Regions from separate parts of the Homo sapiens genome. Here region 2 is linked to region 1. Evidence: fine-mapped expression QTL. A gene starts in region 1. The other region holds a variant in brackets. All regions are shown on one strand. Distances are from middle to middle.

Evidence for each region. PIP is the estimated chance that this variant, and not a neighbour inherited with it, causes the effect. A credible set is the group of variants that fine-mapping cannot tell apart.
Region 2: its variant is the best candidate, but not a certain one, in a credible set for the expression of DDX1 in esophagus mucosa (GTEx, PIP 0.74).

The regions. Positions count from the first base shown.
Region 1 is chr2:15,590,186-15,593,094 of GRCh38, reverse strand. DDX1 (DEAD-box helicase 1) reads right to left here and starts at 1,227. Exons shown (of 26, transcript NM_004939.3): 1 at 1,146-1,227. The coding sequence starts at 1,161. It overlaps LOC124905975 (a long non-coding RNA gene), which reads left to right and starts at 1,326. Exons shown (of 2, transcript XR_007086224.1): 1 at 1,326-1,635; 2 at 1,763-2,909. RefSeq lists an enhancer at 1,129-1,188.
Region 2 is chr2:15,640,719-15,643,627 of GRCh38, reverse strand. No RefSeq gene overlaps it. Among named protein-coding and RNA genes, the nearest start is that of LINC01804, 49 kb to the left of the region's middle. The variant C/A (reference allele first, on the strand shown) is at 1,281.

The DNA.
Region 1 (2,909 bases):
ACAAAAATGAGCAGGGCATGGTGGTAGGCGCCTGTAATCCCAGCTACTCAGGAGGCTGAGGCAGGAGAATTGCTTGAACCTGGGAGGTGGAGGCTGCAGTGAGCCAAGATCACACCATTGCACTCCAGCTGGGGCGACAGAAGGAGACTACATCCCCCCACCCCCCCATTCTCCCCCCCAAAAAAGAAAAAAAATATCTTACATGACTGGAGATATGGAATTCCTAATATTCTTACAGAAGAAAACTAAAAAATATAAAATACTACATCTGAAGTCATCTTAAAAAGTTAATAACATTAAAGGACATTAGGCCTAACGTGATACATTTATATAGCAATAAACGTTACATAAGTGCTACATAAATGTATCACGTTTAGCGCATTTAAGGCTGATTACAGCTTCCTAAAACTGGATGCCTAACAGGAGGATGATAAAGCAAGAGGCGAAAATATCAACTGTAGGGTTCGATAAGCCATATCAAATCATATTTGGAATAAAGGAGGGTAGCAGACGGCAAATAAATATGAATTTTCCAAACTTATGTTGGACTGGTGCGTACGTTAATGAAAATGCTTTCCCTTTAGCTTCAACACTGAACATTAATGTTGATATAACAACGTTTAAGAACAAATAAAGATCAGGTTTATGCCTGGGACGTTTTGGAAGGGCCTGAAAAAACTGGACAGAGGCAGGATCGTCATTTTTCCCCAATGACTCCTCCCCACGCCGTCTCGCCTCTCTGCCTGGCCAAGCCCAGATGAGCCGCGGGCAGAAAAGGGTTCCCAAAGGGTCACTGCCACGTTAAGAGGCAGGAGGCCCAGGCGTCTGGGAGCCGCCAGAGCAACGCCGCCGCCTAGATTTTGCAGCCGAAGGTGCACTGGCAGGAAAGCCAAGTGGAGACTGGTAGAAGGGAAAGGGCAGGGGGAGGGACGTTCCGGCCCGCTCCTGGGAAGAATCGTCCTCCGAACCCGAGCCGCGGCCGCCCCTGATCCCGCAACGCGGGTCCATCAGGGACTGCAGCGGACAGCGCCCTTCTGTCTCCCTGACCCCTGTCCGCTCCCGCCCCTTTAGCTCTCCGCGGGCGGCCCCAGGGCTGAGGCGTGCAACAAGCCGCCCCACCACCCCCAGAGTTTCCACAAACGCACCGGAGAAGGCCGCCATCTTCACCCCGTCCTCCGCGGCTTCGCCTGCTCGCTCCCTCCCTCCCGACTGACACGGCGTGGCAGTGGCGGCGCGCGCTTCCGGCCCCTGGTCTTCGGCGTTCGGAGTCCGGGCAGGGACTCAGCCCCGGGAGAACGGTTCCGATGGAAGGAAAGGCCCGCGCCGGCCCCGCCTTATGCGCCTGCCGCTGAGCGGACCTCTGGGACCTAGGGCTTCTGGACGCCGCCTTCGTTCTGGGCACCATGTGTTCGGAGCACACCACGCGGTATCAGGGTCACAGCTACAGAGAAGGAAGCAGATGTTTGGTGATTAGGGTCATCCAGTGGGCTCAGGCTGACACCACACCGTGCCCTCCCCACTCAGTCCCCCAGCTTTCCAAAGGTGAGCAGGGCCTTGGTGTGTGAATGACCCGGAGAGATGGACTGGATTCATTGCCCTGAGCACCAATGCCAGTGAGTGCCTGGCAGCCAGTAGGTATTTGTTACATTTTTTTTTTAAACTAAGTAATGATTTAGGTCTCCCTCCCTTCACCCATGTTTGATGTCGCTTTTATAATTTCGGGTTTGACTTCCATGCAATTTTAACTCCTTTCTCTTTGCAGAGAGATGGGGAAAGTAAATGAGGAATCCTCCCAACCAGACACTCACTCTGTCAGGAAGGTATTAGAATCTTTAGATGAGGACTCTAAAATTCGGGAAAGTTAAGTCACTTATCTAAAGACACATATCTACCGAATGGCAGCGTGGGATCTGAGCCACATCTGCGCAATGCGAGGGCGCGTGCTGTGCTATCTGTAGCCTGCCCCAGAGTGTCATGGAGAAAAGTGGAACCCTCAGGCAAGATAGAATAGGGTTGCAGCGGCCGGGCGCGGGGGCTCACGCCTGTAATCCCAGCACTTTGGGAGGCCGAGGCAGGCGGATCACGAAGTCAGGAGGTCGAGACCATCCTAGCTAACACGGTGAAACCCCTTCTCTACAAAAAATACACACACACACACACACACACACACACACAGAAGAAGCCGGGTGTGGTGGTGCATGCCTGTAGTCCCAGCTACTCGGGAGGCTGAGGCAGGAGAATCGCTTGAACCCAGGAGGCGAAGGTTGCAGTGAGCCGAGATCGCGCCACTGCACTCCAGCCTGGGTGACCGAGCGAGACTCCGTCTCAAAAAAAAAAAAAAAGAAAAAAGAATAGGGTTGCAGCTACTCCGGAGGCTGAGGCATGAGAATCACATGAACCTGGGAGGCGAAAGCTGCAGTGAGCTGAGATCGTGCCACTACACTCTAGCCTGGGCGACAGAGGGAGAGTCTGTCTCAAAAAAATAAAAAATAAAAAAGATAGAATAGGGTTAGAAGTACAGAGTTGGGAACCATATTCTGAGTTTGGATTCTAGGTCTGCCACTTGCTTGCTGTGTGACCTTGAACAAGTCATGAAGCTTCTTTGGGCTTCAGTTTACTTACCTGTGAAATAGGGATGAACAATAGTACCTTTCTCATATGATAGTTATGAGGATCAAATAAAATACATAAAGCATCTAAAATAGTGCATAGCACATGGTGACAATATAACTAGCTCTGTTATTACTATTACATGTAACAGGATTCACCTGAAGCTCCAAAGGCCCAGGACAATACACTCAGCCCTGCAGCTTTACACTTCCAGGGGGCACTATTCACATTATATTCTCTATTCTTGTTATATTTTGTCTAAATAAGACCCTGAGAGTTATGCAGTGTACCAGTTTTGA
Region 2 (2,909 bases), 51 kb before region 1:
CAGCGGGAGACACAGATACAGGGAAGGAGACATTTTACAACTGGTTAAAATACATGTACCAGTTCATCACTTTCTATGGGAAAAAATATTATTTTATTCATTTTATGATATGAAAATTAGAGATTGTTCATGTTAAAGTAGAATTCAAGCTTGTATTTCTTTATTTTTAATTCCAGCTCCACCCCCCATCATCATACTGCCTTAACAGCAGCGGGGAGGGCTGTGGGTGATCAGGGATTCCTCCCTGTCTTCCTGCCACAGAGCCTGAGTAGATCAAAAGGCCAAGAGCATGAGGAGACTTTGCTCCTTCAGAATCGCTCCTTGGCCCCCTGAAATGAATGACCAGCTTTAACAGACTTTTCCCCCCCAGCTCACATTCCCCATGGTTGGTGAGGCAGAAAATTCACAAGAACAAAGCTCTTGCCCTAGAAAGATCTTCTTTTCAATTTAGGGTCAATTCCACTTTGGGGACTTCCAGAAGAGTCACCTTTAAATTAAGAAAAGAGAAAAAGAAGCTGTTGCATATAAGCCAGGGAAAACCACACACGAATGTGAACAGCACCCGCGTTCCACCCAGCAGCACGGATTTTTTGTGGGAAACTTATACAGAGCCCCGTAAGCCTCCAAGGAGGTGAGAGTCGGGAGGCGGGGGACGGGCAGAAAGACGTTGGAGTCCAAGAAACTGGATTCATTTTTCTACCGGCTGTGAGTAGGGCAACTTCTAAGGGCCTCATCTTGTCCTTCTGGAAAATGGGCAAGCAGCCTGCACCCTGCTGTCCTCACGCAGCCATTGTGAGGCCAAGAAGAGATGGCATTTGGTGAAGGGTCTCTGTCCTCCCCTGCCCCCCAGGACAGCTGGCCATGTCACTCCAGCCTGAACATGTGGTGGCATCCTGCTCTAGAATCTACCTGGGCTCACCTTCTCCCAGCCTTTCAGGACATATTGACATGCACTTGGGTTAATGAAAGTCAACATTCTTTACATTTCACCCCTTGTGAAATATCAGGAAGCTAGGCTCCATGTGGTCTGGCTCAGCTGGGAAACCATCGCTGAACCCTTGTTCTATCGGTCTGCGGACACGATTCAGTGTCTTGAGCTCTGTGGGATCAGCTGTCCCTCTGAGCTGAGCCAGCCCTCCCGTGAGTGGTGTTCAGCCTCCGGGGCCCGGGACCGGGAACAAGGGCAGACCAGCCTGCAGTCTGCATCCAGCGGCCAGGTCAAGGTGATCGAGTTTCTCTCTCCAGTCACAAATTCCATCACCCCTGGCTCCAGGGTAATA[C/A]ACTCAATCTCAGGGCTTGAGCTATAACACGGTTCATTTCTGGGCCAAATCTCTGAAGCTGAAGGGTTTATTTTTAAGGACAAGCAGTTTGCTGTTTTCAGCTTTTCTCATCAGAAATAGTGCAATTCAGCTTGATCTGCATTGGAAGCATAATTTATCATCTCACACAGATGGTTGCTAAGGGTGGGGAGGAGGTTTACTTTTCATTTTACTTCAGCAAATATTTCCTGAGCCCCTACGTGTGCCAGGCACAGAGCAAAGCACTGGGGATGCACACATGAGTAAGACAAGCTCCTGATCCTTGACACACTCCTAGTCCAGGTGAGAGACAAAGCTACAACCCCAGATTTGACATTAGACAGTCCTGCTTTGGAATCTTGGCTCTGCCATTTGCTATTGGAGTCACCTTGGGAAAATTACCTCACCTCTTTCTAGCTAAAGGTTTGTCAGCTTTGTTGATCTTCTCAACATACCAACCTTTGGTTCTGTTGATTTTCTCAACTGTTTTTCTATTCTCTATTGCATTAATGTTTGCTCTAATCTTTATTATTTCCTTCCTTCTGCTTGCTTTGGGTTTAGTTTGTTCTTTTTTCTTTCCCCCAGTGCTTTAAGGCGGAAGGTTAGGTTATTGATTTGGGATCTTTCTTCCTTTGTAATATAGTCATGCATAGCTATACATTTCCCTCTAAGCACTGCTTTACCTACTCCCATAAGATTTCCTATGTTGTGTTTCCCTTTTCATTTATCTCAAAGTATTTCCTAATTTCCCTTGTGATTTCTTCTTTGACTTATTGGTTGTTTAGTAGTATGCTGTTGGTTTTCACATATTTGTAAATTTCCCAAAGTCCTTTCTGTTATTGACTTCTACACATAGGGTCTATCCTGGAGAATGTTCCATGTACACTTGGGAAGGATGTGTATTCTGCTGCTCGTGGGTGGTATGTTCTACAGATGTCTTTTAGGTCTAGTGAGTCCACAGTGTTGGTCACGTCTTCTGTTTTCTTATTGATCTTCCGTTTGGTTGTTCTATCCATTATTGAAAGCAGTGTATTGAAGTCTCCAAGTATTATTGTTCAATTGTTACCTCACCTCTTTGAATCTGTTTCCTTCAAGTAAAATAAATATTCCTGACTTGCAGAGGAGATGGAGTGCAAAGCCCTGAGGCACAGCCTGCCTGCCACCTGTGGATGTTGCTGCTGTGTCTCAGAAAGAATTGACAGAGTGTAGGACAGCAGTGGTGAGGAGATTTCCTTCTAAAGTAACCAGTTGTCCTGGGTTAAGCTAGTACTGCTTCAGCCTGAAAAACACAAACCCTGTTTAAAGAGAAAGACAAGGCTTAGAACCTGTCTACTTCTGTGGCCTAATTTTCAGGATGTGCAGATCTCCTGCCCAAAAAATACAAATTAACTAGCTGACAAATCGTAACTTCTCACCCTAATTATGCTAGCTGGTGTCTAAAATTCCTTCACAAAAGTTTCTCGTGATAATTTACCTGTCCATCCATCTAAACTTCCCTCCAACTCAACAAACATTTACCAAATCACCTTTTCTCAGCCAGATCTGCCTCAGGTACTGAGGATACTGAAACCAGACCTGTCCTAAACACCCTACTCTATCCAGAAAGAGACA